Regions from separate parts of the Homo sapiens genome. Here regions 2 and 3 are each linked to region 1. Evidence: fine-mapped expression QTL. A gene starts in region 1. Each other region holds a variant in brackets. All regions are shown on one strand. Distances are from middle to middle. Region 1 holds the start of RAP2A (RAP2A, member of RAS oncogene family). Region 2 overlaps RAP2A (RAP2A, member of RAS oncogene family). Region 3 overlaps MBNL2 (muscleblind like splicing regulator 2).

Region 1 (10,925 bases):
CCCTGGCCATCCGAAGTTGCTGGCTTTCTACAGTATTGCACCATAATGTCATAATGCATCATAGCCCCCAAATGGAGGCCACATTCTCATATTTCAATGTGTAAAGCAGGAAGCAAAGAGAGCGACATCAGAAAACGGGGATATTTCCTCACTCTTGTCAATATCCTAGAAATCCCTCCAGCCCTAGCAGCCTTCTCCCCATTCCAATGACAAGAACTGAGTCACGTGCCTACTTTTGGACTAACCGTGGGCAGAGGGAAAGCAATGCTATTAAAGTCCAATCCTGATTCATCCCAGCTTCTTTGGCAAAAATAAAGGGAAACTGCTGGGTACGCAAGCAACACTGTGCCTGCTCTTCTGCTTTGTTAAATGAACCACACTGAAGCTCTGTTTTCCGCAGAATCCTCTAGCTCTTAAGATTCTTCAGGCTTTTTCTTTTTTCTGCCTACATTTTAATCATTACGTCTTTTCTTTCAGATTTTTTTTCTGATTAAAATGGCCTTTTGAAACATCTACTCTCTCCACCCATACGTTTCTTTTATTGAGTTGTTTCCATACTCTTAATTTCTGCATTCTAATTCCTTTTCTTTTCAAAAGCACTGAGACATATCACATTTTTTAAAGGAAGAACAAAGTTTATTTTGCCCCTTCCTTTCCACTCCACATATATACTGCAGATTCTCAACTGTATTAGGAGCCTCACAGGTCAAGAAACCATCGTCTGCTCTCCTTATACTTGCCAGCAGCGTTTCACAGGTGCTAAATGTACTTGACATGCCCTTCCCCTTTATGTTTAATCAGAGGCATGCAGGCTTTAATAAGAAGCATTAGGAATCAGGGTTTTACAGTCGAAAAGTACCCCTCGCATTACAAACATCCTCTACTAATTTGTTTCTATTAAATTATCTGCATATTTGCTTCTTGCTGGTGTCAGGAAGTCCCAGAATACAGTACCTTTCCCACTTCATACCACCTTTTCCAACACCTTTTACAGAAAGAAAGGATGGACTTGGGTTTCCACGGTAACACAAGTGCGATAATTGAAGGTATCTGGCTATAGGTGAGATAACTCCCTTTCAGATTTAGTGGAGAGAGGAGAAATGAAGATTTTCTTTCTTTTTATTCTCCTGGCAATGCACTTTGGAAACTAAAGGGATCCTGCAGTGTCAGTTACTGCGTTAAGTTTTCACTATCTTACAGATTTACAGCTCTTGGGAATAATTCAAATTTCTTTTATATCATTTTTATTTTTTATTTCCCACAAACAAATGAAGATATAAGTTATTTCTATAATCATCTCAAAATAGAGTTTATGCTGGCATCGGAATGAACATGACTAAGGGGTTAGAAAATAGACATCCATCTCCCACCCAAGTCCTCTAAATTCTCTACACGTCCTGACATCCTTTTTATAGCAGCTAATCTTTCACCCAACATTTCACCTACAACCACAAATCAGGTAAGTACCATCATTTAAGCCAGAATAGGTGAGAAAATATGCTCCGACCTGTCATGTTTCTTTTGCCTCTTGGTGGTTAAAAATCAACCTTTATGGTACTGAGCATGAAATCTGAGGCCTGTCAATATAAGGCCTGTAAATAAATGAACTGTAACCACCCCAAGGGCTGCAGTCTCTATACCCCTTCTTATCAAAAACGTCAGCATTGATGAGAGGTCAGGGGAAATAGCCTGAGAAATGTCACAAAGCTGTCCTACTCTGTATTATGCTAAATGGAGTGACTACGGAGCCCACTCACTATTTTTGTGACAGCTTCAATCCAGAGCTTCTCAACATCTAGGGACCTAGGAGTCATGAAAACAGTTACTTAAGGCAACCTTCTGGACCCCACAATCCCAATACAAATTTCTCAAAAACATTAATCACTGGAACTTCATTCCTTGCAAAGTAAATGGACTTAGAGCTCCTTTGTAATGCAAGGTACTAGATGAGTTGTCATGATCTAGAGAGAAAGCTTCACGCTTCCTGGCTCTATTTAACAACCCTAAGAACTTCTTATCACCAAGATGCACAGTTAGAATCTTAAGACAGTCTGTCTTTCCTTGGAAAAGAAGTATAGCTTCTACTAACCCAAAGTAACCATGAATAAGCATACCAATTTTACACAAAATATGAGACTTCTGGAAAGCTAGGTGAACACCATACTTACCTACATCCTCTTGAAACATCCCTGCCAAAGTAGCTCAGATATGAAGCATCCATGTAAGCTCTTTCAATTTTAATTCACTATTTCATGTTAACTAGCCTAGGATGAAATAGTAGATCCTCTTCGGTTCCAGTTCCCTTAAAACAGTCCTGATTCTTAGTCCTTTTTATTAATATAATACCTTCACTGCTGATTCTGGTGGCTCAGATAGTACCATTCATATTTTAATGATATGTAATCAAGAAATGCTGAGTTATATTTTACTACATACACATTTTTAAATTCAGAGGACATTTGTCCTTGATAATTTTAAATGAAAACTTGGTGTGTGTTCATTACAGCAAGGTAATGCAAATATAAGTTATCCATTCTAATATAACGAAGCTATAGGGAAATAAGAAACTACTAAATTTGAGTAGTCTTTGTAGTAGTTTGACTATCGACAGAAAAGATGGTGAAAGAATACCTGGCTTTTAACTCAGACCAAAATCCCCTCTGCATGATGACCTTGTGGGAAAGAGGAACGGGGAGAGGTATGCCAGGCTCTAACAACAGAACTACAGAAACGTGTTATTCGCAGGAAATGTGCGACAGTAACGAACAGGTGAGACTAGTTTGAGAAGGACATAGTTTAAAGAAAGTAAACTGAATAACCAGTTACTGCAAAAAATAATGCAGGAAAGCTTGGGGATGTATCGTCTCCTAAATTTGACGTTATGGGTGGGAGAGGATGTGTAACTAAGATGCAATGCTAGCGACAGAACGCTAAGTTTTAAAACTCAATAGTGAAAGAAAAAAAATAATGTTTTGGGAGGAACGCCTGGAAGACCCATGCAACTGCTGCACGATGTTTCCTTAAGGACCGGAACATTTCTCACCCTGAAGACAAAAGTCCCTGTGTTCTCGATTCAGCCCACATCCCTCAGCACCATTTCCATGCCCATCATTTAGGCAGAATGCCACGGAGGCGACGTGAAAAGTGGAATTCATCATTCTGGCTTGCAACGCATCTTGTTCTTTTGCCAGAACAGGGCACAGCAACTGGCTCCTCAATCTCTGCCCCTCCCAAACCCCAGCAGCCGGTCCCTGTCTCCATCCCGCCGGCCTCGGTGGCAAGGGGCTCGCGAGCTCTGGTTGGCTTGGCCGAAGCTTCCGTCACTCGCCAGCTCACCTACGATTGGTTGGCAGAGCGTGCGCGAAGAGCCCCGCCTGGCAAGGCACTGGGAGGTGGGCTTGCGGATCCTACGACTAGCGTTTTTCTCGATTGGTTGAAGGAGTAAAGGCACGTGGTATGGGGGCGCTCTCTTATTGGTCGTGAATGGTACCTTGTGGTACAGAGACGTGATGTGGTTGGCTAGAATGAATCCCAGCTTCCCACTAGATGCCCCTAGCTGGCTGTTGCTATGAGGAGTCCAGGGCCTTCCGGCTGCCGTTCGGGATTCCGCTCTCCAGGTTTTCAACTCACCCGTGGCTGACAGGGCGTGGGAAGAGCTCGACTTCAGTTCGGCACCGAAAGGGGCGGGTCTAGAAGAAATGTGGGCGGGTCCAGAGGGTTGGTGGGCGGGACCCCGGCGACGTCAGCGGGCTTGGACCCGACTTCCGTGGTGTGTGGCCGCCTCTGACTCGCCCCTCTGGCGCGCTGCTAGAGGGGGGCGTCACCCTCCCATCAATGTCCTAACGCTCCAAAGCTTCATTTTGTTGCGTTTACACAACTTCAGTCAGAAGCCTGTAGGTGCCCCCCCCTTAAAGCTTCACATGCTAATACAAGATAAAACCAAAGCTCTAGGAGTGCTGACAGACTGGGTGGCATCGGACAAAGGCCCTCGCGGCCCCTCTTGGGCCTTGGGCATCTCTCCTTCACTCCCCGCCTCAGGATAAAGCTTGGAGGTAGCTCTAGCCCCTCTACCATCTCATCCCTTCCGAATTCTTAATGTCTCGGGAGTCTCAGGTTGACGCTGCTCCTGGCTTGGGCGGGAACTGCGCATGCTCGGTACACAGGCCCTGGGGTCTGACTGGGCGCGCTGGGTTCGGCGCTGCTCGGCGGTCGCGGTGCTTGTTTATCTCCGCGCGGGCAGAAGCTTCCGAGCCCCGCAAAGCCTCTCGGGAGCGCTCGCGGCCCGTCGCCTAGGGGGCGGGGGCGGGGCTGCGCCGCGGGCTCCGCCCCGGCCGCCGGACCCCGCCCCTGGCCGCGCTGCGGCTGGGGCTCGGGCGCGCGCTCGAGCGCTGGGGGTAGCGGCGGCGGCGGCGGCGGCGGCGGGCGGGGATCTGGGCGTGGAGGCGCGAGGGGCGGGGCGGGCGGCACTGCGGGCCCGCGGCTCGGGCGGCACCAGCGGCTCCCGGTCTCTCTCTCTGCTCGCCCTCAGTCCCACCCGGTGCCTACGGGGCCGCATCGCCGCCCGGCTCGGCCCGGCCCATGCCCAGGGCCGCTGCTCCCTCAGTTGCCGCCGCCGCCGCCGGCGCCCAGGGGGCCGCCGCGGCTGTGAGGTGGGGGCGGCAGCGGGAGGCGGCGGGGCGGGCCGCCGGGGCCGGGGCTGGGGGCGCAGCGCGGCCGGCGTAGGTCTATGTCGCGGGCGGCGGCGGCGGCGGCGGCCGCGGAGGGACGATGCGCGAGTACAAAGTGGTGGTGCTGGGCTCGGGCGGGGTAGGCAAATCCGCCCTGACCGTGCAGTTCGTGACCGGCACCTTCATCGAGAAATACGACCCCACCATCGAGGACTTCTACCGCAAGGAGATCGAGGTGGATTCGTCGCCGTCGGTGCTGGAGATCCTGGACACGGCGGGCACCGAGCAGTTCGCGTCCATGCGGGACCTGTACATCAAGAACGGCCAGGGCTTCATCCTCGTCTACAGCCTCGTCAACCAGCAGAGCTTCCAGGACATCAAGCCCATGCGGGACCAGATCATCCGCGTGAAGCGGTGAGCGAGGGCACACGGGGGCTTGGCGGCTGCACCCCGGAGTCACCGTCCCGGGGCTGGAACTCCCCGCGCGGGGCTCCGGGGAAGGGGCTTTCTGGGGGGTGGCTCCAAGCTGGAGGCTTTACTATTGTCATTCTGCTCCTCCTCCTCAATCTCAAATTTGAGTGCTTTGTTTCACAACTAAAATTTGGCATCGTGTTAGCCCACAGAACAGCTCTTTGTCTCTTGGACGTTGTTAGCATTGCTTGTTACAGAGCCCCCAAGGAAACAAAGTTTAAAACTTGCAGGGGGGAAAGGGGTGGATAGATTTGTCTTGGGAAGAGAGGAACTGTGCAGGTATAGTCGAGACATTTGCAGACTGAACAACAACAATCTGCCTTGGCAATGTTTGACAGTAAAAATCGCTCACACACCTATACAGTAAAGTCAAGTCCAGAGGAAGGAGACCTTTCTCATCTCGTTAAAGGTTTATGGTTCCAAGGCGTTTTACAAAAATTAAGTCTCTAATTTAGTGCAAAACTTTAAAGACAGATTATTAAATTATTTGAAGACATCATAAGCTAAATGGGGTTTCGAGAATATTAACAGAGGAGTACAAATAAGCCATTCACAGGAAAAGAATGCAGCTTAACTGTTTGTTTTTGTTTTTTTGTTTTTAATATAGCCGCCTTAACCCCTTCCAAAAAAAAAAAAAAAAAAAAAACACCACCACACCACCACCACCAGTTCCTGGAAACAAAACAGAAGCTTCTTCAAAAGTGTGACACAAGTATTAGCTAATTTAAAGTTAATGTTAATAAGCCTTTATATATATATATAAATTCTTTTCTAAAGTATACATTTTGGAAATATGGCTGATAAATGATTTAAAATGTTTGTTTTCTCTTAAATTCACTGAATATATTTTTCCGTGTAATTTTAAGCATTAGAAATGTGATAATATCTTAGTTCAAAGTTTTGGCAAATTTTTCTAATTATCATTTAATTACACATTACTGTTTCATCTAGTTCTTGTTAGTTAATGCCTGCTGATAATTTTGGTGTCCTTTTTTTCCTGCCTTATTCTACCTAGAGCCTAAATCTGAAGACCTTTACTGAAAGATGGTTGTAAGTGCACCGTAGACACAGTCACATTGTAAGTCAGTTTGAGTCCACTCATTTTGAAAGAGCAAGGACCAAGTTATGTGTACCCAGGGGATGATCAAAAATTCATTACGAGTAGTGAGTTTTTAATGCAACCTATGAGATCAAAGAGAAGGCTCTCTCTCTATTGCTCCACCCCCCCTTAACTGAGTATGCACTTTAATCGCTGAACTAAAATCGTGCATGTTATTCATCCTTGTGTTAAATTCCAAACTAGAATAAAGCAGATATTTTCGTGGTCTCTGCTGCTAAGATTTGTAAATTTGATAGCTTTGTACTTCTCCAGTATCATTTTCCTAAAGTTAAATGTTTATAGTTAAGAGATGAACAATTCTGGTGTTAAACTTAGTATGAGGATGGCATTTAAGGGGCTACATTTAAGTTACTTAAATTCTTATTACCCCCTCCCCCAACCACTCAATTAAAAAGAAACAAACCAAACCAACTGCAGGGTAGTCTGATACATTGCCACATGTCAATGTTAGGCCAAATGCATACATCAAAAAATAATCTAAGTAAATGCCCCAACAGCCTCACCCTTCACATTTAGATATATATGCTTAAAGATATGAAGATGCACATATACACTGATAAAGCCACATACCCATGGCTAACTTCTTGACACAAGCCTAGGGAACAAATATGGCAAAATATTATTGGATAATATGGTCCACATAATTTTGTAGTTTCTTGTAATTTAGTGCAGATTACTTTTCTCAGTTATAATAATAGGTTAGTCTAAACTCAGCATATTGGAGCAATTTGTTTATTTTCACTATGACCCAGAGGAAAAACATAGAGTAAAATTCTGCATGCCCAGTATCATTTTACTCACTAGTCTCAGTTCTTGATATAAAAAGATCATTGATCAGCTGAAGTAGAGTTCATAAATTCTCTTCACCAGAATTCAACCGTTGTATACATAAGAACCTCTTGGACCCTCACTTGTGTGTCTTTGTAATATGGTAGTAGTAAGGTATTTTACACCTCATCCTAACCCCAGCGTCTGGCTTCCCATCATTGATGGAGAGGACATGTGAATGCAGGTGGCCTCTTCTTTACCAGTCTTTCAGTATTTGATATCTACTGTCAAATTCAGTATTCAGCTTTAGGTCTAGGTCAGCACTTTTCAATAGAGATATAACGTGAGCCACATATGTAATTTTAACATTCCTAGTAGCTGATTTTTTAAAAATAACATAAATATATGGAATTAATTTTAATGTATTTTATTTAACCCACCATATTTAAAATAGAATCATTTTGACATGTCAGTATTCAAAAATTATTAATAAGGTACTTTACTTCTTTATACTGTGTCTTCAAAGTTTGGTATGTGTTTGACCTACCACATCTCAATTCAAACAAGTCACATTTCAAGTGCTCAGTAGCCGTATGTGGCCACAGGCTGCCATATTGGACAACAGAGGTCTAAGGTGTATATGATTTGGGGAAATGCTTGCTTATTTCTCTAAGCTTCAGTTTCCTTATCTGTGAAATAGAGATTAGCATGCACCTTCCAGAGTCCTTGTTAGAATTAAATGAGATAATGTATTTTAACATTCCCAAAACAATACCAGTACACAGAAATTGCTCAAAAAATTCTAGCTGTCATTCTTACTTTAATAACTTTGTCATTTATCTTCCTTAAATGTTACCCTTGATATAAATGTAATTTTAGAAGAAATAAATTTGTAATTGCATTTTGGAATTCATTACTTAGTATATTCAAGATGAGACTAAAAAGCAATGAGGTTAAAATAATCCTTGGAAGAATTGTGTTGGTATTCTCTTGAAATTATTTCCCCTTATGAAGGATCTGATGGAAAAGGGCATGAGAATGAACATTTAACTTCAAGTACAGTATAGCAATAATGCATAGCACTAATGCATAGCCAAACAACGAATGGAGCTTTTCATTTTTCATTTTCATTTCAAATAATAGCAGTCATTTTCAAGGATTGCTATTACTTGAAATGTTTCACTTTTAAGAAATGTGAAACTGACCCATACTCCCTTAAGTGTCTGTAAGTGTACATACCTCCGTATACATACATGACCTCTTGTCAAAGCCAAGTGGACCAACTGAAAATGGCTATATTTGTAAATTCATATGCTTTCTTTTCTTAACTTGATTTTGGGTGAGATGACACACACAAAGAAGAGTAACAGGGATATAGGAAATGTTTTTCAGTTGAAATAAAACTAGAATTTTTTTCTGATTTTGTAATTGCTTTTTTCATTGTTACCCATGCCAGGATCAGCCATGGTCCTGACATGAAGTTCTTGGAACATGATATACAAGGCCTCTTTGCTGTTAGGAAAAAGTCCAGAAATCTTCAACATGACCTTTCACAGTCCAGCTTGCTCTTATCCCTCCCTGCCTGTGCAGCCTCACCTCTTGCACCCATCCTTTTATTCTAGCACCCAGACCTTAAGTCCTTGAAAGTACCTTTCTCTGGGCTCTCCTTTGGCCTGTGGAAATCTACCTTTTTGCAGAGTTAATTCCTACTCCGTCTTTCACCCTCACCCCTGCTTAACCCATTTATACCGGAGGTTGCAAATGTTTTTTGTGAAATATCAGACCTTAGCAATGACCTTGAACAGTAGGATATAAATAACTCCCACAAGCTTAGTGTTCCAATAATGGAACACTAGGCATAGATGAGTTAAAAGATTTTTCCCCACTGAGGGAAGATGTCCTCTCAAACCAAAGTAACCCCTTTCCTGTCTTCCCTTACTAAACTTTATGCCTCACCTCTTTGCTCAATCACACATACCCTGTCCTTTCCCTTTTCTTTGAAGCACTCATCCAAATTTAATTATTTGTGTGATAATTTATGGGTAGCCAGCCTTTCTCACAAAACTCCAAGCCCACGTAGGTGACACAGCTCCTACTAGCACATAGGAAACAAGAAAAAATGTTGAAAAAATGAATGTTCAGAAAGAAAAGTATTTGTATTGTTGTTTGGCCTCAGTTTCCCTAAACATTTTGATTTCATAGATGGAGGAGATGATCTTTTAAAGTTCATTTTGCAGATGGAGATGATCTTCCTTCAGCTCGAACTTTCTGTGAGAACACTTCCAGTTGGGGCAGTGTTTAATACGAACCTCAAAGAATCAGAAACATGATGTATTCCAGATGGAGGAAATGGCACAGGAAATGCATAGAATATGTTTTTTGGATGTTAAATAGAGCAGACTGGCCAAATGGGGAATGTATATAGAAGTGTGAGGGGAGGTAAGGTGAAAATTTTTAAAGCTAAATTACTGAAGGTTAAAGACTTAGGAGTTGATCATGTAGTCAAGGACCATAATCACAATTGTCATAGGTATAGCAATATGTAGTGATATGGTAGATGTCTTAGTGGTAATAGACTACTCTGTTTCATAACAGGAAGAATAGTCATAAATGTTGTGATAATCCAGTTTTTACGTGAAGTGTGAAAATCCTGAATTAGCATGGTGTCTGTAGTAACAGGAGAGAAAGGATGCAAGGAATGTTGTAAAGAATGAAGTAATCAAACTCAGTGGTAGAGGAAGAGGAAAAGGTCAGAAGTAACCTTGACATTTTGAAATGAACAAATAGGATTATGGAGGAATAGCTGGGGGAGATTATTTTCAGTTTTGGAGATGGTAATTATCCAGATAGCCAGCCTAATAAGTAATTAGAACATTTGAATAAAGCCTGAAAGGTCAGGTTATGTATGAATATGAAGACTCAGGATCATCTGCGTAGTTCAGATTGGGAGAGTAGATGAAACCTACTGGGTAGAGTATAGAGACAGAAATGAATGGATATGGCTAACAATAGAAATGAGGAATGAATGAATATAGCCAAGGATAGAACTCGAGAGTTGTAAGATACACAGTGGAGACTTCCTATATTGCAGTAGGCGAGAAGGCGTGGGGTGTTTTAAGATTGGGAAAAAGATAGTTGACTAGCACTACCCAAGGTGAGTAAGTTGTTTTTTTTTAAGATTATTATTAATTTTCTATATCACTTAAGTGGTCACTTTCAAGTGAGCTGGCTGATTGTTTACACTTTCCCCCTTACCATAAGTAGCTATTAAAGCCTACTCTAAAACAGAAGCATATTACCAATTGTTACACATAGATCTTTGGCCCATGACAGTTTGGTGCTGGAGAGCCGAAACGAGAGTATACATCAAAAGATGTCTGTCCCAAGTAAGTGAAACTTCTGGAGCTCTGCTACCGTTTTTCCCTCTAAAAATACCTGCTTCCCCAGTACCAAAACTTAATTCAAAGCTGGACCTCCCAGGTACAGAGCCTAATAGCTGTGGGTCACTTTTTTTTTGTTTTGTTTTGGTACTGGTGAATTAGTAGGAAAAATTTTTAATAATAAATATATATAACATGAAGAATTGATGACTAAATCCTGAAAGTCAGACATAAATCCAAACAAAGAATTTGGGTATGAAGATAAGGACTGATGGTGAAACCTCTATCCACTTAAATACAAAACTAAGATAAAAGAATTGTGAGAATTATGGCTGCCAAACAGAATATTAAAGTTAAAAAGACTGACAATATGAAACAAACAATATAACTAGTAAGTCAGGATGAGAGGAGGGAAATAGTTATGAGTGCTCACTTCATCTTTCATGAGAGGGATTTAAATGGTCAAAAAATTGAAATTTGTTTTGAAAATGACTCGAAGAGCTCAGTGTTTTTCATGAT
Region 2 (10,925 bases), 32 kb after region 1:
AGCACTTTGGGAGGCTGAGGCGGGCGGATCACGAGGTCAGGAGATCGAGACCATCCTAGCTAACACGATGAAACCCTGTCTCTACTAAATATACAAAAAATTAGTCGGGCGTGGTGGTGGGCGCCTGTAGTCCCAGGTACTCAGGAGACTGAGGCAAGAGAATGGCGTGAACCCGGGAGGCGGAGCTTGCAGTGAGCAAAGATCATGCCACTGCACTCCAGCCTGGGAGACAGAGCGAGACTCCGTCTCAAAAAAAAAATATATATATATATATATTTATATATTTATATTTATATATTTATATAGATATTTATATATTTATATATATTTATATATATATTTATATATATATTTATATATTATATATATTGTATTTAAACATTCTTTAAAATATTTATCATTTATCTCAACTAATAGAAAGTGATCTTATCACTTTTTATTATTCATAGACAGACTGAAATTTGTTTTAACTTAAATTCAACCAATGTTTTACTTAATTTTATTAATGTTTTTAAGTTACTCCACTGTCAAGCAAAGCATTTTAAAGTACACTGTGATGTATATACTTTCATAAGAAAAACGAAATGTAATTACATTTTGCAAGTAACACAAATTGGAAGCTGACATTGTCCTGACATGGCTGGCAGTGTCTGCTCCCTGCCAAGCTTCTCTGTATAGCCAATCAAGAGAGTTTATATGCAAAGTAGCAAATACATGGTGTTTTGTAATGCAGCTTTATTCTCACTGCCACTTGCCCTCCTAGAGGCCATGGGATGCACAAATTGTTTGTATGTAAGAGTCCTAGAAGATGTTAAAAACCCTTGTGTCTTATGTTCAGAGCTGTCAGCATGATCTAAGGCCCGAAATCGTAAGGTACAGTAGTGTACAGTAAATTTATATAAAGTCCTTTGATATAAATTGAAGTTGTCCAAATTCATTTCCTATAAAATGATAATATCCAAATTCTAGGTTTGCCTTTGATGTTGTTCCTTCCACTCATTTTTAAGTTGTTTTCATGTTTCACATTGCCAAATGGCACACTACCTGGAGTATGCCCTCTTGTTGAGACCATTCTTAGTTTGATATAGTGTCAAAGAAAAAAAGTGAGAATGTTGGGAATTTGGTTTGCTTTACAAGTTAGGATGAGTGGAGAGAACCCTCTTGACAGGATGAAGAAATCTGTGGAAGTATCATAGCGAACAATAACCACCTGCCTATTATCCAGTTTCCTGAATGATAAAAATTGTCTATGCATCCTGCCTCAAAGGCTTGACCATGGGGTGGTTTTCTCTTCTGACAGATTTAGCTGTTTCCAGTCACATTTGTTATCACTTTTGTGCGATCTTGCTGTTTAGCTCCTTTAAATCAGAAATACATTCTGCTTATGGGAAGACACACACACACAAACACACACACACACAGATTTATACTAAAATCACAAAAACCTTTTAAAATGTCTTGTGAAAATATATTAGCTATCTTTCTTAGAACAAACATAAAGAAGAATAGTAAATAAATGTGCAGTCCAGCACCAGTGTTGACATCTGTTGTGAAATGTGCTACATGGAGTAACCATTGTAGAGACAATCATCTTAGGCACCAAAATGACTTAGGAGCTTCTTTCTTTGTTCTTTCTTATCACTTACTATTTTTATTAGTTTAGCTTTTTCCAAACGTGTTTACTCAGAGATACCTATTTTAGTTAGGAAGAAAAAGAGAAATAACACCAATTAAAGCTAATTGAGGCTGAATTCTTGTCAGTCTTAAAAGAATCCTAATTGTTTCTCTTTGAACTGACTAATCCATAAAAGTTTTCTGAAGGGATGGGGTGTGGTTGTATTTGATAGCTTCCATTTGGATGATTTCTACTACCTTTTTTCTTGTTTGAGAACTATTAGAACGAACATGATCATTTTTTCAAGCTGGAGTGCGGTGGCACGATCTCAGCTCACTGCAACCTCTGCCTCCCAGGTTCAAGCGATTCTCCTGTCTCAGCCTCCCGAGTAGCTGGAACTACAGGCACCTGCCACCACACCCAGCTGATTTTTGTATGAACATGATCAATTTTATACACATAGAACATAGTAAAATGCTGATAATTATAAGTTGTTTGTTTACTCATTGTAGCTATTTACTGTGTGATCAACTGTGAAATTTTGTGCAACCCTCTCTCAGAATGGAAAAAAAAGAGGATTTAGTCTGAGTTTCTGAGAATAATTTTCCAAGTATATCTGGAAAGGTAAATTGATTTTAAAGGATATATAATTGATTAATTAAAACATCATTTCATAAAACTCATTTTATCATCCACTGTGAGAGCAGCTTCAAATGCCCTCAGATCTAAGTATCAAGCCAAGTGGTACAAATCATTTTCATGCAACTGAAGATACCATTTATGTTGGAATAGCCCCCAAAAACGAAAATACACGTGACCTGTTTAACTTTGTGCTAACTGTTACAATGTATGTGTGTTTTGTTTATTCTCTCATAGGTATGAGAAAGTGCCAGTCATCTTGGTTGGGAACAAAGTGGACCTGGAAAGTGAGAGAGAAGTATCGTCCAGCGAAGGCAGAGCCCTTGCTGAAGAGTGGGGCTGCCCCTTTATGGAAACTTCCGCTAAGAGTAAAACAATGGTGGACGAACTCTTTGCAGAAATTGTGAGGCAGATGAACTATGCTGCTCAGCCTGACAAAGATGACCCATGCTGTTCTGCATGTAACATACAATAGCATCCAAATATGGCTGTCCTGGATGGGATTTGCCCAATGTCGTAGGTGATAGAAAACTCGCCTACTCCACTGCAGAACTTGCAGAATGCGTGGTGTTAATCTACAGAGAACTGCAGCCCTTATTCAGAATTGAGCAGTGATTGTCAGTTGATATCTCTGAGTAACATTTGGGTTCAGTAACTACAGTTTTCACCATTTGTCCTCAGTCTCCTTTATGCATCTGCAACTTTAAGGCATAGTCCATCGATCTACAGGGTGATCTCATTTGAAAGCTATGATGGCATTGTCGCTGAGTTGACAGAAGCAACTATTGTACAAATTAAAAATAACCATAAGGGAGAAACCAGAAGAATTCCTCTGACCACTTACAATTAAAATATTTTGTCTTCTTTAAAAAAATAAGTAAAGGAGAAATATTTTCCTACAAGAGTACTGAATTTCAGGAAATGGGATAGAGCTTCTAACCAATGTATTCCGTCAAGTAAGATAATAACAGCTGACCTGCCAACAGCATTACAGGGAGATTCTTTGCTCAGCTAACACATTTCTGTTTTTCAAAATTGATGCTTAATTGTAGCTGTTATTCTAATTTGTGACATGGAACTAACTCATGCTTCAATCCTTGATAGAGCAAAACTCAGAACAGGTTATGTAAAAATATAGTCTGGCTTTAGAATTTGTTAATTCACCTGCTTTGCCACAGAAAATGGAGGCTTTCACAAGGGTTTGATCAGAATTAAAACCCCAAACCCGCCCTCTGTTAGGGGTGGTCTTTATAACTTTACTGAACAAGAGGGAAGCAACTGTGATGGGAAGAGATTACCTAGCCTTACTAACAAGAAGCATTCTAATAGATAAACTAGTACCATCATGTAAGGAAGATGAAGCCATGTTGCATCCACATGTTCCCGTTTGCAGAAACCTCACAGGACAGTACGAATATCTGGCATTTTTAAGTTCATTAAAGCAGCAAATTCCTTCTCGCCTTTAAGGGCTATGGTTGTAGTGTGACCCGTGGCTAACCTGCTTTCAAAATCAAGTATTTGCTGTAGCAGAGCTTTATTGCAGGCATTTTAAAAATTGAATAACCATGTGAAATAATTTGGGCTTAAAAGTGAACATAAATTATAGAGTGGAAGGTAAGGGACAAAAGCCTTTTACCTTTAATTTTCCTGGAGAATTATATAAAGGTTTTCTTAGAACAATTTTGCCCTGATTACTGAAGCGTCAAATAAAGCTGGAGTGAAAATTTTGTTTTGAAAAGGTGCTCAAGCTCTGACATTTTTGGTTTTCATAGTCGTGAAGTATTTATCATTTGCATGACTAATGGCACAGGAAAAACCTATTCATAAGTTTTACAATCAAGTATAGAGGGGTCTTCAGCTAACTTAGTTATACATAAATGCTGAAAAGATTATCTTGAGCTGGGCCTTGGGAGAAGAATTTGGCCTTCAGAACTGCAATATCACTGAGCCTGCGATCTATACACCACCCCACATTTTGTTGGTTTCACAGTCTTGTGCAAGTAACCTCTGGTCTTACGTGTGTAACTGAGAGAAGAGTGTGTGTTTGTGTGTGCATGTGTGTTTATTGTTCCTAAGAATTTGGCACAAGTCAGAGATAATTGCCTATACTAAGAATCTATACTGCAGAATATAGTGTATCAAAAACTTTTTTCTTTTAAATTATTAAAGTGTCTTTTATACTTTTATGAAATCATTGGTAGCCCCCCAAGTGTTTAATAACTGGCATTAAGCTTAGAGGGTGAAAAAAAAAAAAAAGATTGATAGTATTTTTCATAATGAAAAAACTGAAGAGATACGTGAATGAAACCAGGCCATAGCTGTCATAAATCTTTGACTTTTGAATATTTACATTCTTCAGTATAATTTTTTATAATCCTCAATTATGAACCACCTTGTTTATAGGACAAAAAAATTTAACCAATTTTATTGAAACGAATTTCACTGTGTAAAAGTTGGTTTGATTCAAACATGTAGAGAAGTTGTAGATTCAAGATATATGATTTCTCTATGGAAATAAAAATATTTGTTAGTGAATTGGTTGAGTTTTGATTCCTCTAACTTCTCAGAATGATTCTTTAGAATTCTATAATTCATAGCAATTTTTGACAAGTAAGATTGCAAAATAGAAATATCTATAAAGATTCCACAGTTTGACATTATGGCTTGCTATGCAGATGTGAAAATAGGTTAAATAATATGAAAGATATGGCAGAATGTAAAGTGGAAAAGATGACCTAAAATTTTGAGTTGTATTAATAGTTAAAAACATTTGTGTCAGATGACAGGGTGGGCTTTTACTGTCAAGACATGAATAAGAACTGATCTGGCTGCCTGATGAGTGTTTCCACGCAGCCCTGCATATTTAGTGACCAAGGCATCAAGGACATCCCGAAACTGGAAATTCATATCCATCTGGTATGAATATATAACTCAGCTGGCAAATGAATGTGTTTGTTGAGATATTACAGTAATAAAACACTTAAGAACAGGAAGATTACATTTGTTGGCATACGAAACCTTAGTGGCTACAGAAGAAAGTTGACCTTGTGTCACTATTTATTTTATGCCCTGATCAGACTAGCAACTTAGATAAGTGAAAGTTTTTCTAACATGCCTTAAAAATATTATGGTTTGATCCAAAGACCCACTTTTTCTTTAGCTCTTGTGATAAGATTTTCTTTTTTTTACTTTTATACAAAGGCAGCATCTTTGAATTTTTTTTTCTTTTGATGTTGCAACTTTTGGGTTCTTTTAAACTGTGATAGTGATGGTAACTGATGCCTTTCATTTTGTTCAACTTATACAAAACAAGCCAGCATCTGATCAAAAGTATTACATAAAATATTTTCTTAAACTATTGAAAGGTGCTTTGATGATTTTCTCCTTTGGTTTGTAGAATTAGGACTGAACTTTTGACTCAAATTGCTACAGTTGCCATCACCTTTCTGTGGTAATACTACTGATATTTGCTTTTCTATATAAAGAAATGTTGCCTAAGGCTGTCTGGTATTTCTTTTCAAGGGTTTTCCAGTATGAATGTTAATGTTGTCAGTGTATGTATGAATATGAAAGTGCTTTGTTTTGTTTGTTGCTGTTTTTTGTTTATGTGTGTGTTTTTAATTTTTTTGTTCTTATCAGCAGTCTTGTGTTAGCACTGGGTAAGCTTTAATTGTCCCTTAGCCAATCAAACATTAAGGACTATGGAGGTCTTTTTTTTTTTATTTAACATGTCATTGTTCATCTATTAAATCTTGATCAGGGTTTCAAGAATGACTGCAGTGGGTTTTGGAAACAGACTTATCATTATTGATTTGAGGTTTCCCAGAGATATAGTTCACAGTTAATTGTTGCGCTCTAATACAACTGACCATTTAAAATTGAACAAGTTTATTGTTTTGTAACAATGTCAGTTGTTAAACCTTGACATTTCAATTAAAACATGAATTGTAGTTATAACTCAATGCAAATTCAACAGTTGTATTTGGAGTTAAATTATTTTAACAAATAAATTTATTTA[A/C]TGAAACTCTGGATTTGCTTTGTTTTGTACATGCTCATGAGAGAAATGTATTATATACAAAAACAATTAAAAATTGCCATATAATGAATTTAGTACTCTTCATACAAAAATATTTTAGCTGATTTGAGAGTTCATCATATAAAAAGGCAGGTAGGTAGATAATTTTCATAGTCTTTAAAAATAAAAATAACATGTAAGAGACTGTAAAATCAGTTATTATAAATATAAACTTATCTCTACAAATGATTTTATATTTTGAATGGTAGCTGGTTAATTTAAAGCCTGATGCTAAGGTTAACAGAATTGTTCAAATAATTAACATTAATTAGCAATATCACTAAAATGATTCAGAGGCCTTCTAGTGATGGCTTGAAGCCGTCTTTCTGTTTTCAGGTCATGTGGATCCGAAGGTGCCAGAAGCTGAAGGTTGCCGCCAGGCTGTAGGGCCTGCTTGTTCTATATGGGGCCCTATGAAAGTTGACAGATGCTGTTAATTGTATACAGCCTTCAGCTGCTCTGATAAGGAGCCCATTCATTTCCTAAGCCAATTTAAACTATGCCTTTTGGTTATGTTGCCTTCAAACTCTGTTGAAATCCTCTGGCAGCATTCCACCAGTTGAGAAGCTTCATTGTTTTAGATTATAAGAATAATTTGAATGAATATAACAGAGGCACTGTAGATAGAATCCCAGATATTTAAAGGAAAACATGCCTATATTTTAGGAATATCTTCTGAAGAACTTCATAATTTTATTTGAAGTGTTTGTAAATTTTTTAATAAATTATTTAAATGTATCAATAGTGGATAGTTGGAAGAACGTCTTTGAGGCTAAAAAGTAGTACTCTGAAATTCTCTCAAGTTATATTATTTGTCTGTTAGAGGTCCACGAATGAAAATATATGTAGCTAAAGGAGTAAGGTGCTGCCCAATTTGGAACCCAACTGACCTCTAGGATCTATGAAGCAGAGAATATTACCACAAACTTCTGAAAGAAGCTGTTGACCTCGTTTCTTAATTTAAAATATGTTGCCACATAAATACTAATAAAACATAGTTGCTCTTCATCTCTTAAATGGATCATTCCAACTGGTTTTACATCGTTGAATATTATCTAGTATTTTTAATAAATATTTTCATAAATAGTTTTTGTGGTTTTTTTGTTTGTTTTTGAGACAGTCTCGCTCTGTCACCCAGGCTGGAGTGCAGTGGTGTGATCTTTGCTCACTGCAAGCTCCCTCCCGGGTTCACACCACTCTCCTGCCTCAGCCTCCCAAGTAGCTGGGACCACAGGTGCCCATCACCATGCCTGGCTAATTTTTTGTATTTTTTAGTAGAGACGGGGTTTCACCATGTTAGCCAGGATGGTCTCGATCTCCTGACCTTGTGATCCTCCCACCTTGGCCTCCCAAAGTGCTGGGATCACAGGCGTGAGCCACCATGCCTGGCCTATAAATAGTTTTTAGATAATATTCAACATCCCCAACATCGAGGTATTGAGTTTTAAAAGATTTGCTGCTATTCTAGGTAAGACGCTGTGTTATTTCTTTCTATATTTTCTTAGTAGTCTTCATGTTAGCCTCTAAGGATTCCTCCAAGATTTCTCAGCAGAGAAAAAGGTAGAGGACTAGCTGCTTGAAAGAGTAAATACGAAGACCTATTTAGTATGTATGAGTTGGGAATAAAACTGAAGGAAAGATTCTTGGTTTAGCTTATGGGGATTTTTTAGTATAAGATCCTCCCATTTTAAAAACTTCAGTATCAATGATTCATATTTACAGTTTTACACTATTTTGAGTGTGATGTGCTTTTATACCTTTAAAAACATCAGGATTAGTGAAGGGAAGAAAAGGTCACCCCAAGAGGATCATGAGGTCAGGAGATTGAGACCATCCTGGCTAACACGGTGAAACCCTGTCTCTACTAAAAATACAAAAAATTAGCCAGGCGTGGTGGCACACACCTGTAATCCCAGCTACTCGGGAGGCTGAGGGAGGAGAATCACCTGAACCTGGGAGGCAGAGGTTGCCATGAGCCGAGATCGCACCACTGCACTCCAGCGTGGGTGACAGAGGGAGACTCCTTCTTAAAAAAAAAAAAAAAAAAGTCACCCCAACTTTCAGTTCCCCAAAACAGCCATGTTAACAATGGATGTAAATCATTCCCAGCATCTTCCTATGCACATATACATATGCAAGTACGTGAACATAGGTAGAAGGATAAATAACTCGATGTTACTTTTGAGAAACTGGCTCTAAGTACTAAAAATGAATCACTGAAAGTCACACAGCTAATAAAGTGGCAGAGTTGAGTTTCTAACTCTGCCACTTAATTTCTAATTCTTCTAACAAGCTCCTAACTCTAAATGACCTTTTCCCCACTGTTAATCCTTTCACTTAAATTGAATCCACTCATTCCATGCTCATTCAGCTATTATTTATTGAGAGGTTACACTTGCATCTGGCACTGCCACAATACAGAGATGGTCATCTACACATAAACCCTGATGTCAAAGACATCCTAGTCCTGTCTTCTTGCCATTCCTTTTTCTCTTAAGGCAGATACAGTTTAGTTTACTAGCAAGAAATAATTTGTACCTTCCCTACTTTCACATGTCAGCATCCCAGTAAACCCAGGCTGAGCCGAAATTCCAGACACAGCCCCAGAGACTGCTGCTGGCTCTGTTCACTTTTCAAGATCGGTGCATCAGCCTGAGCTAGTCCCTCCCGGGATCTTGAGGTGTCTGTGGGACACAGTAGACGGGGATGGCAATACAGCAGGGCTTCAAGGCTCTACTGTTACAGGCTGGGTCTACTTCTCAGGAAGAATTCAGAGTAAAAATAGGATTAGTGAGGGGCAGTGGGGATACAGAGGCAGGTTGGGGACAGCAGGGCAAAGGGTTCTATGTATCAGATACTACACTGAAGAATAAATGCTGGGTCCATGCCTATAGTTAAATACCAGGTGTTTTTAGGTTTCAGTGAGTTTTTTTAGTTTAAAATGTTGGTTTGTTCACAGCACAGCTCTGTAGTGTGTTCTGAAGAGGTCTTATACCATGAGAGGGTTTGCTGAAAACGATGATAGAGTCAAGCAAGTTTGGGAAACCCCACATAACACATCTCACATCTTGGAAAAAACTCAAATTCCACTCATGTCTCAAAAATAACTAGACCCCAGGACACTTTCTTTCAATTATACATAGTAGCACTCTCTGGAGCACAATTTGGAAAATGCTGCTATTAGATATTTGGCCTCCAAATGCTGATGTGGGAACTCTGTCCAGGTGAGGGGACCTGGATCGGTTGTGAGCGTGAGAATTCCTCTGACCCCTGTAGTCTCTAGAGGGATGGCAGAGAAAGGGAGAGGGTTGGGTGCAATAGCTCATGCCTGTAATCCCAGCACTGTGGGAGGCCAAGGTGAGTGGATCATTTGAGGTCAGAAGTTCAAGACCAGCCTGGCCAACATGGTGAAACCCTGTCTCTACTTAAAGTACAAAAATTAGCCAAGCGTGGTGGTACATGCCTGTAGTCCCAGCTACTCTAGAGGGTGAGGCAGAAGAATTGCTTGAACCTGGGAGGCAGAGGTTGTAGTGAGCCGAGATCAGGCCACTGCCCTCCAGCCTGGGTGGCAGAGGGAGACCCCATCCTAAAAAAAAAAAAGAAAAGAAAAGAGAGAGGGAGAAGAGGAGAGGAGGCAATCTACAGTTGATGGACATTGGAGTCATTCCCAGTTTGAGTCTATCATGAATAAAGCTGCTATGAACATCTGTGTACATGACTTTTGGTGGATAGACACAATACTCACTCCTAGGTCACTATCTAGGAGGGGAATTGCTGAACTACAAGACTTGATTGTCAACTTTGGTAAACATTGATAGTTTTATCAAGTGGTTGTACCAGTTTACATAAACAAGCAACGTGTGAGTACTCCAGTTGCACCATGTCACAGGATGGATTGCCTGGGAAGAGGGCTGTGATACAGAGCTTAGTGTGCAGGATGCTTATTACCAAATGTCCTTGGGATTAACTCCTGTGGAAGGGAGTAGAGGAAGTAAGATTGGCCAGAGGGAGAAGTTGTGTGATGCAGGGCCAACAACCCCCAGACAGAGGGAGTTAGAATGGGGCCCTTAGAATTGTCCTGAGTTGGGCTCAGATGGTTTAGTCCTCTGTACCCTCTGCCTGTCAGTCACTGTGACCTTGAACAAGATGCAGAGGCAATCCCTGAAGGATCAGAGAGTGAAGGTTGTCAGCATTCTCAGCAGCAGGGCAGCAGTTACTTGACTGAAAGGAGGTCCAGGTGGTGCCTCATGGCATCTACCAACTCCACCTTCCACACACATACCTGGCACTGTCAGGCTTTGTCATTTTTCATTTCATTATTCTGGTGGGAGCGTGGTGGTATGGCATTGTGGATTTCACTTCATGTTTCTCTAAGGCCAATATATTTATATGCTTATTGGTCATTGGTTACCCTCTTTTGTGAAATGGCTATTTATGTTTTTTGCCCATTGAGTAAATGTTTTGTTTACTGTTTCATGAAGTGACTCAAAAAAGATTTATTTAATCTTTTACTTACATATTTGTAGGAGTTCTTTACATTTTCTGGACACGTGTTTATAAGTACAGTGTACTATCCCAGTCTGAAGCTTGCCTTTT
Region 3 (10,925 bases), 51 kb before region 1:
CCTGCAAATCCTGTTCTTTTGTGAACCCACCTTGTTTGAATTAGATTGGAATCTATGGTCAGTGTAGGCTTGGGATGAACCTCTTCATATGACTCCCCTTAAAAACTCCGAACTACTGAGTTTATTGCTTTGAAAAGTTTTGACTAGTTGAGAAGAAAGTTTAGTAGAAGCGAAAACTTTTTAAAGTCCAAGCTCAATATCAGAAATGGTGTGAAAATATTGTTGCTTGGTGAGAATAGCAAGAGAATCCAAATTTCAGTCCAGTGAACCAGAGCTAGAAAGCACTGAGAAAAGGCACCATTCACTCTTCCCAGGGTGGGAAAACTGGCACACAACTTCTGCCTGAAAAGAGTCTATCAAAAAGAGTCCTCTCAATCGAGACTCACTTTTTAATTTTTAACAATAATAATTTAAAAATAAAGATACTATTTTTCTTCACCATCCCCACAGAACCTCACTTTCAAATTGATCTCAGGTAAACGTAACAACACTAGTTGAGGATGAATATTTTAGGCAGCCTGCAGGAGCGACTGTAAAGGGAACAACTAGAAGTTTAATTCAGTTGTAAGTGAAACCACAGAGCTAAATGAGGAAGCAAACGGGGATCTTAATGATGATTCAGATGTACAAGCAGAAAGAGCCAGGGGTCTCACTGCGAAGCCCCAAATGGGAAGGAGAACAGAAAGGGTGGGAGGGTGGGAAAGAAGGAATGGAAGGAGAAAGGGATTCAGGATTGGCAGGAAAGGGGGATGTGGAGTTATTCTCTAACGGGGGCAGGTTTCATTTGGAATGAGGAGACATTCTGGAGATGGAGGGTGGTGATGGTGGCACAACCAGGTGAATGGAGTTAATGCCACTGAACTGTACGCTTCAAAATGGTGAAAATTGTGAGTTTTATGCTATGTCTATTTTGCCACAATTTTAAAAAATAGACAAAAGATCTGAGTGGTCATTTCTCCAAAGAAAGGATTAAGGAGTGACAAGGACAATGTCTGATTGGACCTAGGTTTTCATTTAATAAAATCTTATAGTATAAAATGGTTCTTCTTGCATTAAAAATTCTTTATGGCTGCCACATTTCCCTTTAAGAATTCTGTTTTCATAAGGTAAGGAACTGAGTGCAAAGACGTATTCTTTCTAAATGAAACCATGTCTGTGGCAACATATCTTTATATCTTCTCTCAACAAATGTACGCTAAGAACCCACCTTGAGCTGGGCGCAGTGGCTCATGCCTATAATTCCAACACTTTGGGAGGCTGAGGTGGGCGGATCACATGAGATCAGGAATTTGAGACCAGCCTGGCCAACATGGTGAAACCCCATCTCTACTAAAAATACAAAAATTAGCCAGGTGTGGTGGTGGGCATCTGTAATCCCAGCTACTCGGGAGGCTGAGACAGGACAATCGCTTGGACCTGGGAGGCAGAGGTTGCAGTGAGCCAAGATTGCGCCTTTGCACTCCAGCCTGGGCAACAGAGCAAGACTCTAGCAAAACCAAACAAACAAACAAAAAAAAACCACACCCACCTTGAGCCATGTACAGTTCAGAATTGTGGGAATACAGCAATGAAAACAGTAGTTCCTGCTCTCATGGGTCTTACATGGTGAGGGGGACAGGCGATACACAAATGTACAAATAATTACAGTCAGAGTCCTTATCATATGAGAAGGGTCATCTCAGAAAGTAAATGGTGATGCTGAAAGAATGGGCCTCACCACCGAGCTTTAATGGGGGATGGTTAGTAATAAAGAAATACAAGATAATGTGGGAGCTCTCCTCCTCCTCTAAACATTTTCCTCCTTTGGTTTCCATTTTGCCGACGATTGGCTATTTTGGCACTTCCTGAGGGCTTACTGGGGAGGGCAGATGGTGACCTGGCTTAACTACTTACCGCACTGCAGAGGTGCCAGCGTGATACAAGCCAAGTGAGGAACTAAGGCTCGAAAGGGCACAAATCTGACTGGTGGCACAGACAAGCCTCCTGAAATTCCCCTCCAGTACTCTTTTTGATTTTTCCTTTGCACCTAGATTTTACACACAATTGAGTGGTTTTTGTTAACCTCTCTCTCTATCTCTCCCTCTCTGTCCCTCTCTTTCTCTCTCCCTCTCTCTGACACACACACACACACACACACCACACACAGGCAAAGAACTAAAAAGAAAAAAACACTAATTTTTTTGCTGGAAAATTTGTTATATGGCAGCAGCATCCCACCAGTTTGAGAAATGTGTAAGATGATGACGATACACAAAGACACATGTCCAAGTCCAGTACCTTACATTAATCTTACTGTTCCTTTTACTGCATTTTAGCATTTGGTTGCTTTTCTCCCTTTGATGCCTTGAAAGCCAATTCTTAGCAGGCTAAATTACACATTCTACTCCACTGTTAAAATGGGTACTGTGGCCAAAATGTGCCCAGGATTCTAAGTCCAACATAATGGTAATGGATACAAAAGCAGGGCATTGAGCAGGATTGGACATTTTATGTTAAATCCAACAAGATCTTGTTTCTGTGATTTTTCTTGACCTGAATCTTCAATTTATTACTGGGAGCAAAATCTCATTTTGAAAAAAACCCATATCATATATGAATGCTTTTGAAATTTCTTTTCTGTTGCTGCATAAATGAATTTTTTTGGAATTCCCTTGTTGCTTTAATTTTTTTAACTTTCACGTTTATTAAATTTTTATTTTTCACTCCTGAGTTGCCAGTTCCTGTTCTTTAAAATATTCCAGATATACTTATATCAACAATAACCATGAACAAAAATAGATATATTAGGAAAATATTTTCAATGTATACAACAAGGTAGGTCTTAATATTATGTTACATATTATATTAATTAATATTATGTAACATATTGTCTGCATATTACATATATTACATATTATGTTACATAATATTAAGACCTACCTTGGGAATACAGCAGTGAATACAGTGCTGATTTTTAAAGGTATAAAAATGTTTTCTCAGATTCTACTTTATGTCCAGGAGTCATCTTCAGTGAAGCAGCCTATTTAATCTCAGAGAGCCTCACTTCCTACACAACTTACTGTAAATATTTTAAACACTTTCAAATATTTTCTTAGTGTGTCCCACATATTATATATTTTTTCTTGATTTAGTAGAGGAATTTATCCTGCTTTAGTACACATACAGTCCCTAATTTTAAACATATTCAAAATTACCTTTGTCATTTGGTTTGAAATTCAGTTCTCCTACAGAGACAGCCATGGCCTTGGTGGTTAGATCTCTGGGCTGGCCTACAACCATTTTATTTAGTTTGTGGCATTTTTATAAGTAACACAGTGCTAAAGCATGGCCCAGGCCAAATGCCACTCATGTCTATGATGTTGCTATATCTTTGGGATTCAAGAAACATATCACCAAACCCCCAGATGTCCATGCAACAGAAAATAGAAAATTCCGTCACCTCCTCCACCTGCTGGAGCTGTGGAGGCGCCATAATCCCTGGTGAATTCCATGACTAGAATGTCATCCGGGGAAAGCCTGTGGAGTCGGAATGGGAAGTATGGTGTGGAATCACAAATGTTGGGTAAGGAATAGGAAGATAAAATCTCGGGCCTGCTTCTGGGTAGCCACCAGACCCATTCACACCACCTTCTTCCCCATTTCTCTTGATGCCATGGTTTCATCTGCCAACTATTTTTTTTTTTTTTTTTTTGAAAAGGGTGTCTCACTCTGTCACCGAGGCTGGAGTGCAGTGGCGCCATCTTGGCTCACCACAACCTCCAACCTCCGCCTCCCGGGTTCAAGTGATTCTCCTGCCTTAGCCTCACTTGGGCCATGCCTGGCTAATTTTTTTGTAGAGACAGGGTTTCACTTTTTTTTTCCTGGCTATCATGCAGTCCTTCCAATCTAGGGTTTTGTTTTGATTTTACCTTTTCTGGCACCTGCTGAGGAAACACAGTCGCATAACTCCCCTCCTTCTGAATAAATACACAGTGCTCTTGAATATGTCTTTGCTTAAAACACTTCTAGAACGCCAGCGGAAAGGGCCAGGAAAGAAAAGTCTCCTTCTCATGCCTCTTTACCTTCATCCTCATTTATATCATATAGGAGAAGAAAAGTGTTCACCCTTGGATGACATATGGGTTGTTAGATGGTCTGAGGACAAGATTCCCATCTCAGCATGAGAGCCACAGAAATGATCCTCAGAATTCCCCCAGGGGAGCTAGGATTGAAGGAGACTGTCTGGAGTCAGGGAGGGGATTATAATCAAAGCCTAACTGCAATACTCATAAGAACCTAGATGTTTTTACATGTGACATGGACTCATGCAAAGAGCAGAATCTTATTCAAAGTTGAGCATTCCCGTTTATGAATTTTATCCAGATACTCTAAGTTGTCAATGTGAACCCTGGTCAGTAATCTTCAGCGAGGACAGTATTATTGCTTTTCATGTAAAACGTCAATTATTAATAGTTTTAAATGACAATTTTTCTTTAGTATATCTAAAAATATTTTGTTCAAATATAATCAAGTGGAAAATATTGGACAGAAATGAGTCATCCACAAAAAGTATCATTGAAACTAGGGGAATTAGAGCTTTGAATATAAACTTTCTACTAAACAGCAGAGGACAAAACAATAATTCTGGCAAAACTCCTCTTGAAGGTGCTATGAAATATTACGGACATTACAACCTCAGTGTGCTCTTCTCCAGAGTAAAGCTGATTGTCATATTTGATAATTTTTCCCCAGGACCTCAGTGTATGCCTTTTCTGTGCAAATAAAACTACATTTTGAAAATAAGTCAAATATGGCATGACACTGCCCAACCTCCGAACAATATTCCCCCAGAATAATGAATCAGACTATTTTTAAGTGTCTTTTCATATACTACTGATGATCTCTGAGCTTTTTATATAATTAATTTTTTTTTTTTTTGAGCGGGAGTCTCGTCCTGTTGCCCAGGCTGGAGTGTGGTGGCGCAATCTTGGCTCACTGCAACCTCCACCTCCCAGGTTCAAGTGATTCTCCTGCCTCAACCTCCCAAGTAGCTGGGATTACAGGCGTGCACCACCACACCCAACTAATTTTTGTATTTTTAGTAGAGACAGGGTTTCAACCACGTTGGCCAGGCTGGTCTCGAACTCCTGACCTCAAGTGATCTGTCCACCTAGGCCTCCCAAAGTGCTGGGATTACAAGCATGAGCCACTGCACCCGGCCTATATTTAAAATTTTATAGTCATGAAATAGGCCAAAGAAAGTTCTTGAAAGTGTACATTTGTTAACATGTATAATTATAATTGCTTTAATTACTTTTTTATCTGATACCATATATTCACTAAGAGACTAAGACACTTCTTTTGACTTCAGTAATCCATACTGTGATTAAGTACTGAATTATACTGGAGTCAAAATGTACACATGTCCCTTTGCCTCTGTGCAGTTTGCTTCAACTGAAAGATCTCACAAGTGTAGCCTCTCAGGCAAGATCAGGGCATTTCAGACAGTCATGGCTGCTGTGGAGAAGAGGTGTGGGGCAGTGGGGAAAAGGTGGAGAGAATATTAAATGGTGCACAGACTAAAGGAGGAAGCAATGCTAACAGAGAGTGGGAAGAAGGAACTTGTGAGACAGAATCAGAAGAAAACACTGGATGAAGAAACACAGACTGGGAGGGTGAGCAACGTGCGAGCCTCCTTAGCTTAGCCCTATTTTTAGGAAATGCCA[A/C]TTAATTGCCTATTTTTAAATTAATAATAAATTTTGTTTAAAGAGGCAGTGAAATATTATTAATATCTTTAACTGCCTTCTGGGGAAACAGGGCCTTGTAACCATGGCAAAAGATTTCTAAGAAACCTACCAAGTCTAGAAGGTTACTTTAGGTGAATTTTTATCTGCTGTATTTCCCTTCTCTGTGAGTGATTCTGCCCCCAGCCTGGAATATTTTCCCCTTTATCTATAATGGGGAGTAGGGAGAATGGGAGAATGGGGAGGGAATGTTTATTTCTCTTAGATATTTCTGAGTCCTTAACTACCCTAACAAGGTGCACAGATGACACATCTTGTGCAAAGGGTTCTTTTTCTGCCCCATTCCTGTTTCTCCCATGAATGGTCTGGTGGTCTTCTGTTGATGCCAGCATTGTGGCACTGTGTCTTCAATGACTTCAATTTATTTAGCCATCCATGCAAGCAACAATTAATAAATTCCCAGCCCTATCCTAGATACTGGGGCTATAAAGATGAATGAGACAGTCCCCCTGTCCTTAAAGAGCTTGGTTTGGCTGTGGACCCAGTTAGTGCACCAGCCCTGCTTGGAAGTACCCACTTGAGATTCCATGTTAGTGACATCAAGATGCATTGAGATTCCTTAGTAGTTTAGCAAGGCTGCACAAATATGTTATAAGGTATTTTTTATCTATGCCATCCAAACTCAACATTACAAAGACAGTCCTAATGGCTATTCACAGGAAGACTGAACCAAAACATCCATTATTTCTCTTTTCTAATTGCTTGATGACTTGCATATATGGAAATTCTTGGCATTTTCACTGGAATGTTTTCCTATCAATTAAGCAGAGCAGGAACAGTTCTTACCAAATTTAATATTGAGCTATCATTTTAAAAAATAACTCATCTGACATCCTTGAATCTTTGAAATGAGCACTTTTACATAAGAAGTATAAACACTTCTAGAAGTCACCTAGAAGCCCACAGTTTCCAAAGTTATACATACGTACAATTCCTGGAGATCAACCTCAAGGTAGAAAACCCAGAATGTATTAATACTTGGTACCTCTGAAATACTAAGGAAATTCTACGTTGATTTGTCTTCTCTTGCACCATTCTGCATGAGGACTGGTTAGTTCAGCTGTTAAGTTCATGGTGCTGATTAGTTCAAGTTCAGTGTTTCAGTCTCTGCAGAGACTATTTTGCTTTGAACCAAGTGTGTTTCTCACCCTGTTCAGCTCTTTTTTGAGCGCACATCATGAGTGACAGGTATGGATGGCTCAGCCTAAATCCATCATCACATGGCAGAGACAAGAAAACATGCATGTTTCATAACTGATGACTCAGTCAAGGGAGGGTTGGTATTTTCTTTTTAGGTAGAGGGTGCCTTGTTGGTCACATACTCTCTTTCTTTGGGCGAAAGCCAAATGTCTGAAAGTTGTAGGACTAACTCTCCTGTAAACCTGCTCTCCTGGTCTCACTCTTACCACTGCTGCCTGCCATGATGTTGCCTGTAGCGTTGGCTGATGCCAGCTCAGGAAGCCATCCAGACTTAGTGAATATAGTGGATATTGCCTTCAAGAAAGTAAAGCTGATGAGGACACAAACCAGCAGCTCTTAGCTGAATTTAGCCCAAAGATATATATGATCCTTCTGTGATGTGAATTCATTGCTGAATTTCCAGCTTCTTTTGGCAAATGAAAAGGTCAAGTAATATGGAGCCCATGTTTCCGCAGGTAGCACTTGGCTGGGGCTGAGTGGCTGTTGCCACACCCTCGACCTGGCCTATTCACTTACATATCTTTCCTGCCTGGCCCCAGGAGGCTTAGTATTAGACAGTACCTAATCTGGTCCACTTTTTAGTAAGGTTGGCTACCACTGCACTGTGAGTCAATGGCAGGCAATTCACTGAGGACACTATAATTATTAAATGGCTGCTCATAACATATTTGATAGAAAAATAACCCATTTGATGCTTTTGAAGCCATTCATGCTTTGTCTTCAACAAGTAAATATGAAACTAATCAGGTACTGGATTCACATTGGGGTAACTTGAGAACGTATATTGAGCAGAATCATCAGATTCTTAAATCCAACCACCTAGGGGAGACAGTTTAATTCACTTAATGTGATTTCCTTTCCTTATTGATAAGCAGACTCCATTGTAGCCAGCTGATATTTTTGCATCAGAGATACTCTTGTTCCACCCAGAGGGGCCACTGAAGATTTAGAAAAGTACTCATGATTTGAGATCAAGTGTATCTTTGCCTTAAAAACAGAATCACAGATACTGTGGGCATCAGCTATTCCTATTTTTGTCTGTTCTCCTTTTAGTGGAAAAAGGAATTGAAAATAATGCTTGCAGTTCAGAATTTTGATTTACCATACTAGATTAGCTAGAATCTTATTTAATAATTTAACTTCCTTCTCCTGTCATGGTGCTTTGTTATATAAAACACTACTTACTTGAGGCAATAGTCTCCCAGGGAGACAAATAGAAATATAGCTTGTTGAATATCTTTGATTTCTTTCCTACCGTCATAGTTTGCCAAGATTTCTCAGCAGCTGAGGCAGCGGCACTGTGGTGCGGTAGGGTGTTCTGATGCTATAAGCAGACACGTTTGCAACATCCATCTGGAGGAGCCCTGGGGCAGGATGTGGTTGACCACCCAGGCAAGGATGCCCTGAATGAGAGGCCCAGCAGCCTCACAGTCCCCCAGCAATTTCCACCCATCTAGCCCCTCCAAACAGTCTCACTGTCTCCCCTCTAAAGCTCCAAGTGCATTTGCTGTAGGTTCCACCCCAGGGCCTCGCCTTCCCCTGATTCCCAAGCTCACAGGGGTTCTTCTAAGCACCCTCTGAAGCAGGCTCCATGAGGCACAGCCATGCTCTTTGGAACCTCTGTGTCCCGTCGCCCTATCTCAGACCGTCCCCATGCCCTGGAGGGGATGCCTTCACCAATGAGCAGAGTGACATCTCCAAACTCATGCTGGTTTGTGCAAGCACTTTGTACATTGTGCAAGCCAGTTAAAATTATGCACGTCATCTTTTCCATGTCTGCAAAATATGATCACAATACTGACCTAGCTTGTAAGACTCTAGCTTGTAAATTCTCAGAGCCTCCTGAAAATCAAGGGGATATATCTTAAAATTCAAACAAAAACAAGGGTGCTTCAGAGAGGAGACTGGCAGGAGACCCCCAATGTGGTGGCTGTTTCTCTGACTTACGCATACCCTGGCAGACCCTATGAGTTTTCCACTTCCCTTTCAAGACAGCATGGGGTGCTGTGCCTTGGAGGTTGAGTAGGGAACTTTGGGCACCAGCTTTGACCAAATGCAGGACAGGAAAGAAGTGATGGACAGTTGGTCTGTTGAGCTCACTTTGGTGAACTGTATTTTAATTAGCATTTTAAGAAATGGAGAAGTTCAAAATTAAGGTTGATCCACATCAGATGAGTAGCCCATGTGCCAGGGCCACATATAAGCCTGGTATTTTAAGAAGGTATGTTTCTTATCTGTAATGAAATATTCAGGCACCCCATGAAGGTTTTGATCCTCCTGGCCACAAAACTACAATAAAGATGGAAAAAGTTTATACATATACATACATACATATATATATATATATATATATCATTGGTATGGGAGAAAATCTCTGAAAAGAGGTAACAGGAAAGCACACAAAATGTATCTATTCATCAAACATTAAATTATGTTTGTTTAGTGCTAAATCAACATATAATCTGAATAAAGAAAAGCCATGTTAAAAACTAGACAAGAGGTTCCTCTTTCTCTCAAAGCAGCTTCTCCTCTCCCTCCCGCCAGTCCCCACAAGCACACACACTTGGCTTTCCACTTTCCTCCTGTCCTGTGGGTGGTCTTCCGGCTAGATCTGTCCCACACTCCCCTGGGACTCTCGGGCCTGTAAGGTCCTGTGCCTCCTAACAACAGAAGTGCAATCAGATGGGTGCTAGTGATATGACAGGCCCTCAGTTGATAACTGTTCTTGATCTGTATCCCTGTTCTGTCTATATCTCCAGGGCATATTTCACCCCAGAGTACAGATAATACAGACTGTATCAGCAAGCTGTATTTCTCAGGAAAAAAAAATTTAATAATCAGAAGATATTTCCAAGAAAAATGCTGCCACCCAAAAATGGAACCTATAAGGAAAAACACCCAAAGCTTTCCCACCTTCTAAGATTAAATCTGTTGAACCTCTTGAAGTTCACAGATGCCAAGAGTGTGATTCGTTTTTTATACCAAATGACAGCCAAAGACAAAGACCAGGGGATGGCCAGAGTTTTCTGGCCTAGATGCCAGGCAGCAGTCACAGCTGAGAGTTCAATAGTCCCAGGGCTCATTTTTATTGATGTCTTTATTCATATAATAGCTCATCGGTAGACTGGGGCAGAGGGGAAGTGCAGTCTGGGTGAGACTAGTTTATGCTTTAGTTAGCTCCAAGACTGATTTACAGTCCAATTAAATTTCAGTGGTCATTTATGTCTGTTCGTCAAATACAAGTTCAAAGCCTTGCCATAGGTAACTTCCATAACCCACGTTTGCCCATTCTAATTTGCCATTGCTATGCTTTTCATAGAATACTTCTTTTCCAGATGGTTAGGAATTTCATTCTTTATAGCATTTCAATTTCAGCAAATAAGCAAGAATCTAAATGCATTCTAAAATACATATTATTATATATCAATTTAAGAAACTGGCTGGGTACAGTGGCTCACGCCTATAATCCAGCACTTTGGGAGTCTGAGGTGGAAGGATTTCTTGAGCCTAGGAGTTTGAGACAAGCCAGGGCAACACAGGAAGACCCCATCTCTACAAAAATAAAAATGGAAATTAGGCAGGCATGGTGGTGCGTGGTTGTAGTCCCAGCTACTCAGGAGGCTAAAGTGGGAGGATTGCTTGAGGCCAGGAATTCAAGGCTTCAGTGAGCTGTGATTACACCACTGCATTCCTAACTGGGCAACAGAGGGAGACCCTGTCTCAAAAAAAAAAGAAAGAAAGAAAGAAAGAAAGAAACTGCAATTTTTTTTCCAGAGTTATTTTAGAAACTTTTTTTTTAAAAGTAAAAGAAAAAGAAAAATCAGACATGATTTGATGGACTAGGGTGCGTTCTTATTTGGAAAACTTACAGATAGGCTTGAAACTAAGGGATGAAATCAAAACATTTCTATTTAATATCTAAATCTAGAAAATTTGAATATT

The links.
Region 2: its variant is fine-mapped to the expression of RAP2A in whole blood (TOPMed, PIP above 0.99). The same link has a PIP of 0.9 or more in lung.
Region 3: its variant is fine-mapped to the expression of RAP2A in monocytes (TOPMed, PIP above 0.99). The same link has a PIP of 0.9 or more in blood mononuclear cells and whole blood.

Annotation. Positions count from the first base shown.
Region 1 is chr13:97,429,704-97,440,628 of GRCh38, forward strand. It overlaps RAP2A (RAP2A, member of RAS oncogene family), which reads left to right and starts at 4,466. Exons shown (of 2, transcript NM_021033.7): 1 at 4,466-5,081. The coding sequence starts at 4,768. RefSeq lists enhancers at 3,563-3,702, 3,650-4,581, 3,853-3,982, 4,003-4,052 and silencers at 4,203-4,562, 4,583-4,642, 8,494-8,687.
Region 2 is chr13:97,461,714-97,472,638 of GRCh38, forward strand. RAP2A (RAP2A, member of RAS oncogene family) reads left to right here. Exons shown (of 2, transcript NM_021033.7): 2 at 2,492-7,415. The coding sequence ends at 2,729. Among named protein-coding and RNA genes, the nearest start is that of RAP2A, 33 kb to the left of the region's middle. The variant A/C (reference allele first, on the strand shown) is at 6,273.
Region 3 is chr13:97,379,001-97,389,925 of GRCh38, forward strand. The region is part of intron 8 of MBNL2 (muscleblind like splicing regulator 2); the gene reads left to right. Among named protein-coding and RNA genes, the nearest start is that of RAP2A, 50 kb to the right of the region's middle. The variant A/C (reference allele first, on the strand shown) is at 5,706.